Homo sapiens: one gene and its partner. The protein of the gene in region 1 purifies or fractionates together with the protein of each later gene. This does not show direct contact. Each region holds a gene or a part of one and is shown on either strand. Other genes may lie near its edges.

Region 1 (4,919 bases):
CTAGTTTAAGTGAGCCAGAGACGCTCTGCTTTCATGTTTTACTTATAGGACTTCTAGATAAAACTTCAGATGAAGAAAAGTTTGAGCTGGTAAGAGAAGCCTGCCTGAAAATCTAGTTTTTCAGGGGCAGGAGGTAGCAAAGGTGCTCTGCGTTGAAGGTTTTAAATGAGTTAACAGTAGAGTTTGCATTTCAGATATGTGTAACTCCACTGTGAAAGATATTGTTAATATAAAAAGGGGCTTAAAGAGTCATCTAATCAATATTTTTGGTTTGTTTTTACTATTTTTACAAAATAGAACAGGTTTTTCTCTTAAAACTAAATTCTCTTTCCAATTAGAAATATATGAAAAACAAACACATACTGTAGGTCTGTATTTTAAATCAGTATTCACAGTAAAGCAATCTCTACTTAAAAAATTAAATGATGAGTAAGAAAAATATTGGTCTAATGTAACTATAGCAAAATGAGCATAATAAATATATATCATTCCTAAGATCCAGTATGGATAGAACATGATATCAGAAAGAGAACAAGTTTTAGACACACACACAAACACATAGATACTTTTTAGGTAGCCTACCCTTCTAGCCACTCAGTTTTCAGACTTCTGAAGTTAATAAATATGAGTATCTTCGGTTCAACCAGAACTCACATTGGTAACAGAAGCTTAATGAATCTATTTAAGTAATCCTTCTTCTTTTGTAACTTTAAAATTATTTCCTTCCACCTATCTTCAATTATTTGTTATGTATTTCTACATACAAGAAAGCTTTTGGATTTATGGCCCAGATTACTGTTTCTCTTTGCCACTTTTGTTACCTAACACTGAGTTACACTATGCGTATCACTGAAAGAAACTAAAATAGGCATCATTAAACAACATAAAGGTTTGACCCATAACTGTATTTATTGATTCATCATAGATTCAACAACATCAGTCATGAAACAAAATATACTTTTTCAGTTCAAAAATTTTCCAACAAAAAAAGACTAACAGTGATTAGTAAAAAGCCTATACTGTATTGGTCTTCTCTCGCCAAAGGAAAAACAAACAACTTACAGAATCATCTTCCTCCTCATCGTCTTCATCTGCATGGTGGAAGAAATGTCGATAATTTCCAGGATTTATTTCTGTATCTTCTGGTCCAACGAAGAATCTGGGGGCTTCACTCATTTTTATTTTATTTGATGTAGATATAATTGAAATGATTTATATTAAAACTGCCTCTAAGTAAATAGTATCAGAAGAAAGCATTCTCCATATATTAGCTGACGCACAGGTCTGTGACAGCTTGTTTCTGCTTATACAATCACTTGATATTATGATGACTGTTGGCAAATACTCTTTTGTTCTTAGATATCATTGCTTCATTGTTGATATCAAAGTTGTTGTTGCAATTCAAAATACAAAGACAGTGAAGTTACTGCTTTCTTGAGTTGATACAGCAATCTTCTTACCTAAAATGCAATGAAAAAACTAATTTTGGAGAGTGCACTCCAAAAACATTCATGTAAAAAATAATTTTTAATGACACTTGTAAAATCAGCCCAATAACTTGATGTATATTGTCAAAATGAAAATACATTTTCTCCCATAAGAAAATTACTTATAATAAAAGCAAAAAAATTAAGAAACTAAAACTGATCTTCAGTAATATACATCTTAGCAATTTGACAAACATATGAATTAACAAAAAGACTACACATTAAATTCCTCATCCCAAAATAGCTAAACTAATTAAGAGAAAATTACTCAAATTATAACAAAATTATATTAAAGCTAAATCTCTTAGCACATAGTTATGAAATATCTGAATGGAATGGAAAAGAACAGACAAATGGAATGCAGCTTTAAAAGCCACTGACAAATATTAATCTGAAATTACATTAAGTCAATTTGTAAAAGTTGTCTGTAAACAGTTTTTTTAGGGAACATAACAATTCTATATTCTGGTCTCATACATAAATGAACAAAAAAAGATTAGAGTCAGAACAAGATTTCATTTAACAGCAGCTCTTAAACATGTAGAAGTCAAAAACTCTTTAACAAATCTAATAAAATCTATGGATCTCCTCCCCAGAAAAAAAAAGTACATGTGCACTAAATTCTGCAAGAATTTTATGTGATTCACTGACATTCAAACTCTTCCACATAACCAGGCGTCCATGAGTATCAGTTAAAGAACTATCATAGCTGGACTCATTGGCTCACACCTGTAATCCCAGCTACTTGGGAGGCTAAGGTGGGAGGATGGCTTGAGCCAAATAGTTTGAGGCTGCAGGGAGCTATGACTGTGCCTCTACACTCCAGCTTGAATAACAGAGAAAGACTCTGTCTCAAATAAATAAATAAATAAATAAATAAATAAATAAATAAGAACTATAAGAGCAGTAGCATCTCAAAATATTCCTTACCATAGTTGTTTACATGTACTTGCTTCCTGGTCATATTAAAATTAATTATATACCAAGATGAAACTACATAACAAATGCTTCATTTGATTACTGGTAGTACAATAAATTACTTGATCAAATATTCTTAAAAGTCAAACAATATGCTAGGTAGAATTAAAAGCATAACTCCAAAAGTTCTATTCCTAAAGATCTAATTCCAGTATAACTTGGTGACTCCCCAGTAGACATTAAAATCAATTTGCCCAGTCAGCCTTCACTTTAACCATCTTTAAAATACAGCGTTACATTTAAAATAATTTGTAATTTAAAAATAAAAGCAGAAATAATTTACTTTATAAATCAATGCCTTTTGTTCTATTCCTCTGTACTGTTTAACATGTAAAAATGTTTACTGAAAAAAAAAACAACAACAACAGAAAGTTTCCAGTGGCTGTAAAACTTCATGTTGGTGGATAAGTTGATCTCAGTTCTGTTTCCTATCAAATGGCAAATATCTCTTGGTTTCTTTCAATTTTTTTACTCTTTCCATCTAAAAACAGCTCAAATATTTCGATAATGGAAGGGGAATGTTCTGGAGTCAGGTACATCTGTTTTAATCTGTCAGTGCTTAACTAGTGACTTGTGCTAGTTGCTATTAGTCTATAAAAAAGGGAGTATAGTAACACCCTGTAACCCTGTAAAGACTAAGTGAGATAGCATAAGTGCTTGGCGTATATTAAACACTCAATAAACCATAGTTTCCATGAACACTCCTGTAAACCAAACTCCCTACTGACTCTAACATGTAAATCTAAAAGAATGAATTGTTCATTATTTGTTGAAATGAATATAGTTATCCAACAAACACTATTTACTTATTATAGAAGGCATAGTATTAAGTGCTGGTTATATAAAGTCAAAGTAAACATGGCTCTTTTCCTTAAGGAGCTTTTAGTCTAGTAGGAAGATAGCCAAATAAATTGACATTTTCTGTTTTAGTGTGATAAACCACCAATAAAAAAGATAATAGAAACATGTAATAATGTAATAAATGTCTATCTACTTCAGAATGGCAATGATAGGAAATGCCAGGTCCAGTATGTCAATGCAATATATAGGTATGTACTTATATGTATACATACATGAATATGAGTGTGTATACACACATTTTATGACATTATTTTAAAACTGTATTGTACTTCCTTCTAGTTAAAGTGTTCTAACAAAGTGAGAACAATACTGTTTTAGAGGTAAAGCTGAAAATTAATTTTTTTTAGCCTTTTAGAGTATTCATTGGAAAAAGTCTGGAATACATACAAATAAAATTTAAAGAATCAGTTAATAAGTCCATGACACAATGGCAGAACTAATGGTTGTAGCTGTGCAGACCTATTGGGCTGTGTTTCCTACTATTCTGTGATGGTTAATACTGAGTGTCAACTTGATTGGATTGAAGGATGCAAAGTATTGATCATGGGTGTATCTGTGAGGGTGCTGCCAAAGGAGATAAACATTTGAGTCAGTGTTCCGGGAAAGGCAGACCCACCCTTAATCTGGGTGGGCACCATCTTATCAGCTGCCAGTGCAGCTAGAATATAAGGCAGACAGAAAAAAAAAAAAAAAACGTGAAAAGGCTAGATAGACTAGCTTAGCCTCCCAGCCTGCATCTTTCTCCTGTGCTGGTTGCTTCCTGCTCTTAAACATCAGACTCCCAGTTCTTCAGCTTTGGGACTCGGATTGGCTTCCATGCTCCTCAGCTTGCACATGGCCTATTGTGGGACCTTGTGATCGATCGTGTGACTTAATACTACTTAATAAACTCCCATTTGTAGCTATATCTATCCTATTAGTTCTGTCCCTCTAGAGAACCCTGACTAATACATAGTCTTTTCAATATAATTCTCCCACATTTTTGAAATACTTTACAAAATATGTGTGTAAGTAGAAATCAACTTTCGGGGAAAAAAAAGTATGTATCCAATAGATTTTTTTTTCCCAAGGGTATGAATTAATGACTGGTCTGTCCCCTTTTGTTAACTTATTCAAGTTCTGTTTAAGTCTGTAATGCTGTATGAAGTATATAGATATATGTCCCTCATTTGATTATGACCTTAGGTCTGAAACATGTCTCATTCATTCATTTGGTGAGGGACTAGGTAAATCAACAAATAAATACATGTTAGAAAGACCTCTTTAATAAGGTGACATTTAAATATAAATTTAATTTAAATGAGAAACCAACCATGGGGTTATATGGTGTGAACATTCCAGGTAAGAAACATCAAGTATAAAGCCTCTAAAGCAGAAGTATGCTTGGCATATTTCCCATGTTCATGAAAGAGTAAGGTGGAGCAGAGCAGGCAAGCAAAGGAAAAATGGTAAAAAATCATGTCAGATAAGTAGCTAAGATGCACACAAAGGACTGAGAAGCCATAGTAAGAATTTTCAATTTGTTAAATGTGATTGCACTGCATTTAGGGAAGCTGAGGCAGGCGGATCACTTGAGGCCAGGAGTTCAAGACC
Region 2 (4,919 bases), on another chromosome or scaffold:
AAACCTGTGAGAGAGGCAGGGCAGGGATGATTATTCCCGTTTTACAGATGACAAAACAGACTCAAAGAGATTCAATGATTTAACCAAGGTCCCACTGCCGGTTAGTGGAAGAGAGTGGGTTCCTCCCATGTCTCCAAACTGCCCCCAACACACTTACATTCCAGTTGTAGAGGTAAAACACAAACATACATGAAGAAATAATGCCCTGCATATAGCAGGTGCTCAATTAATGCATATTGGTGGTGGTGGTGGTGGCAATAATGGTGACTGATGATGATCATAATGAGATGGTGATACTGGTGATGATGGTAGTGATGATGATGGTACTGGTGATGATGGTAATGATGATGGTACTGGTGATGATGGTAGTGATGATGATGGTACTGATGATGATGGTAATGATGATGGTGATACTGGAGATGATGGTAATGATGATGATGGTACTGGTGATGATGGTAATGAATAGTACTGGTGATGATGATAGTGATGATGATGGTACTGATGATGGTGATACTGGAGATGATGGTAATGATGATGATGGTACTGGTGATGATGGTAATGATGGTACTGGTGATGATGGTAGTGATGATGGTAATGATGACGATACTGGTGATGATGGTAATGATGATGGTACTGGTGATGATGGTACTGATAATGTTGGTAGTGACAATGATGATGGTGATAATGATCATGATGATGGGAGAACACAAGGCACAGACAGTGTGTACTCAATCACTGGCAGGGCTGATGAATGCTAAGGGAGCTCACCTGAGTCCTCTCCATACCAGTCAGCCTGGACATCCATCATGGAACTCATGGCTACTCCTGCACCTTCTGGTCTTCCTTCCAAACTCCTAGAAAAGTGATGGTCTGCATCATCCTTGCTCGGGGCAGCGCTGTTGCGCAAGAGCGCCTCCAGGAACTGCTTCACGTGGTAGTTGCTGTAAGCCAAGTCAACCGCCTGGCCGCTTGGCAAGGCCTCCTCCACGTGGGCCAGGTTCAGCGGGGCAGCATACTGCTGCAGCTGTTCACCAACGTCCACCTCCACTTCATCAGCATCAAATTCCACCTTGGGCTCTATCCGTTTGGGTGGAGTAGAGAGGTTGCTGTCAGCCGAGCCACCGCCAAGGCTGTCTCTCACCACCAGTTCCAAGGGGTGGCAGTCTCCGCAGTCACCGCAAGGGGACTCTCTCAGGCACTCCACGCTCTTTTCTCCCTCGGCTGGAGAGGAGACCAAGCTCTTGGTACCACAGGAGGTCCCCTCCCGGCCTGAACTGGGGCTTTCACTGTCAACCTGATGAGCCGCCGCTGCTGCCGCCGCTGCAGCCGCCGCCGCTGCCGCCGCCACTGCTGCAGCCACAGCAGCCTCCTTCTCCATCTTTCGGCAAATGTCGAGGGATGACCTAATGTATGTCTTGCAGAAGTTCACCACGTCATTCATCTGCAGGTAGCTGGCAGCCGACATCACTTCAATCACATTCTCCCCACACAAATCCAACTTCCCAGAATAGAGGAAATCTAAGATGATGGAGAAGGCATCAGAGGTGACAATGTCCAAGGAGGCGGTGCTATGCCGCCCGCTGTCCTGGATATAGTGAATGAGCAGGGCTCGGAAGTAGCCGCTGTTAGCAAACAAAATGTTCCTGTGGGCCTTGAAGATCCGCCCTTCCACAATGATGCTGCAGTCACAGAAAAAGTCCCTCTTTCTCTGTTCATTCAGCTCCCCCAAAAGCTTGGCATAATAGGATTGCATCTCCATTGCTCCGCCAGCTGCTGCTGCTCCAGAGCAAACCTGTATCTCTGCCAAGATTTTTCTTAAGTTAATTCACAAATCCCAACCTTTACAAACAAGATTTCTTTTTTTTTTTTTTTTTTTTTTTTTTTGAGTCAGCGTCTTGCTCTGTTGCCCAGGCTGGAGTGAAGTGGCGCAATCTCGGCTCACTGCAACCTCCGCCTCCTGGGTTCACGCCATCCTCCTGCCTCAGCCTCCCGAGTAGCTGGGACTACAGGTGCCTGCCACCACGCCCGGCAAATTTTTTGTATATTTAGTAGAGGCGGGGTTTCACCGTGTTAGCCAGGATGGTCTGGATCTTCTGACCTCGTGATCCGCCCGCCTCGGCCTCCCAAAGCGCTGGGATTACAGGCGTGAGCCACCACGCCCGGCCAATAAGATTTCTTTTAAAAATTTTAAACAACTTTTCCAAAACCAGTGGTGCAATAGTGTCTTTAGGATATGGGCTTCCCAGCACTTTGGGAGGACAAGGCAGGCAGATTACTTGAAATCAGGAGTTTGAGACCAGCCTGCCCAACATGGTGAAACCCCTTCTCTGCTAAAAATACAAAACTTAGCCGGGCCTGTAATCCCAGCTACTAGGGAAGCTGAGGTGGGAGAATCGCTTGAACCCAGGAGATGTAAGCTGCGTGAAACAAGATTGTGCCACTGCACTCCAACCTGGGTGACAGAGCAAGATTCTGTCTCAAAATAATAATAATAATATGGTCTGCTTTGGATCTAATAAAAATAAGAGGTTATCCAACTGGGTTAATTTATGGAAAAAAATAACTATAGCTAATTGCATGTGAGCACAGTGCTTACTGTTTTACATGAATTCTTTCAATGAATTTTTATAAAAACCTTGTAAGTAAATATTAATATTGTCTCCCTTGTTCTGATAAGGAAATTGAGGGTAGGAGATGACCCAGTTGTAACAGATCTGGGACTCAAAATCAGGTCTATTGGCCTCCAGAGCCAATGCTCTAATGTACTACATTCTACTTTCTTCAAGGCTCAAACTATAGAAAATATCCACATCTAAGAATTATACTTGAGGCCAGGCACGGTGGCTCACACCTGTAATCCTAGCACTTTGGGAGGCTGAGGCGGGCAGATCAGCTGAGGTCTGGAGTTTGAGACCGGCCTGGCCAACATGGCAAAACCCCATCTCTACTAAAACTACCATCTCTACTAAAAATTAGCCAGGCGTGGTGGCGGGTACCTGAGTCCCAGCTACTCAGGAGGCTGAGGAAGGAGAATTGCTTGAACCCAGGAGGCGGAGGTTGCAGTGAGCTGAGACTGCGCCACTACACTCCAGCCTGGGCGACAGAGTGAGATTCTGTCTCAAAAAAAAAAAAAAAAATTATACTTGAGTGTTTAGTGTATCAATCTGAAACTGGTTTTCTTTTTTAGAGGAAGGGTCTTGGGTCTGTCGCCCAAGCCAGAGTGCAAATGGTGTGATCATAGCTCACTACACCTTCAAACTCCTGGGCTCAAGCAACCCTCCTGCTTCAGCCTCCCAAGACCTAGGACTACAGGTGCATACCACTGCGCCTGGCCAATTAAAAAAAAATTTTTTTTTGTAGAGATGGCAGTCTTGGTATGTTTCCTAGGCTGGTCTCAAGCTCTTTGCCTCAAGCGATCCTCCTGCCTCCACCCCTCAAAGTCCTGAGATTACAAGCATAAGCCACCACACCCAGCCTCCAGTGTCCCAATTCAAAACTTTGAGACTGGTCTTTTTTTTTTTTTGAGACAGATTCTCCCTCTCTCGCCCAGGCTGGAGTGCAATGGCGCGATCTCGGCTCACTGCAACCTCCGCCTTCCATATTCAAGCGATTCTCCTGCCTCAGCCTCCCAAGTAGCTGGGATTACAGGTGTATGCCACCACACCCAGCTAATTTTTTGTATTTTAGTAGAGATGGGGTTTCACTGTGTTACCCAGGCTGGTCACGAACAAGACTGGTCTCCCTTTATCATCATTATACTGAAGTATTTGGTGGATTCTTGGGCTAGCCAGCATGCATTCCCCATTCTTTTGGTTCTAGTGCCTTTTTTCGGCTTTGATGGAAGCATCCTTCCCCCATTCTTGGCCAACATGCTTTGCATAAAGCTGGTGCCATCCTCAAGCACCAGGTGTGTAAGCTATAATGTAGGCTAATAAAATTAAGGCATCCCACCCTGTGACCACAGTGATTGGCTCGGAGATGGCCATGTAGTTTTCAGAGCCAATGAAAAGCAATGAAACATTTGCTGGAATTTCAAAAAAGAGCACTCTTTGCTCTGTGGGATGCAGGATGTGAGGGATGTTGCTGCCATACCACCAGGGAAGTCAGCCTAACAAAGATGACAGCCCAGCTCAGGCTGATGGAGCCTGGGGACAACATTGGAGCCCCAACTCAAGCAGTGCCAGAAGCCAATTAAGTTCCTTTTTGGTTTAGCTGGTCTGAGTTGGGTTTTCTTTTTTAAATATTATTATTATTATTTTTTGAGATGGGGGATGGGGTCTCACTCTGTCACCCAGGCTGCAGTGCAGTGGTGTGATCTCGGCCCACTCTGACCTCCGCCTCCCTGGCTAAAGTAATCATCCTACCTCAGCCTCCCGAGTAGCTGGGACTACAGGTACCCACCCCCACGCCAGGCTAATTTTTTTTGTACTTTTGGTAGAGACAGGGTTTTGCCATGTTGCCCAGGCTGGTCTCGAACTCCTGGCCTCAAGTGATCTGCCCCCCTCAGCCTCCTAAAGTGCTGGGGTTACAGGTGTGAGACACCACACCTGGCCTCTGAGTTGGGTTTTCTATTTCATGCAACTGGGAGACTCCTAACTGACTGATTCCACTACCCTTGGTTAACTCCTGTTTATTATTTATGTCCTGGCCCTTCTCTGTCAATGAACTACAAGCCCTTTGAAAGCATGAGCCATGTCTTATTCAATTTTATATCCCTTACAGTATCTGGCAGAGTGCTTTGGACAAAATAGATTTGTTAAGCAAAAAAGGAATATTCATTTCTTAACTGCTTAGTAGATAAACTATAAACCAAGTTTAAAATCCACTTGGGGCCGGGTGTGGTGGCTCACACTTGTAATCCCAGCACTTTGGGAGGCCAAGGTGGGTAGATCACCTGGGGTCAGGAGTTCGAGACCAGC

The links. The genes of interacting proteins can lie anywhere in the genome.
Region 2: the proteins of PPIP5K2 (region 1) and ZBTB8B fractionate together in Homo sapiens (co-fractionation; one large-scale study listed by BioGRID). This does not show direct contact.

The regions. Positions count from the first base shown.
Region 1 is NC_000005.10:103,125,847-103,130,765, reverse strand, and holds part of PPIP5K2 (inositol hexakisphosphate and diphosphoinositol-pentakisphosphate kinase 2), read right to left. Parts: intron 1,461-4,919; 5' UTR 1,177-1,460; coding exon 1,063-1,176; intron 1-1,062. UniProt on the Homo sapiens protein: Bifunctional inositol kinase that acts in concert with the IP6K kinases IP6K1, IP6K2 and IP6K3 to synthesize the diphosphate group-containing inositol pyrophosphates diphosphoinositol pentakisphosphate, PP-InsP5, and bis-diphosphoinositol tetrakisphosphate, (PP)2-InsP4.
Region 2 is NC_000001.11:32,467,465-32,472,383, reverse strand, and holds part of ZBTB8B (zinc finger and BTB domain-containing protein 8B), read right to left. Parts: intron 1,801-4,919; 5' UTR 1,760-1,800; coding exon 769-1,759; intron 1-768. UniProt on the Homo sapiens protein: May be involved in transcriptional regulation.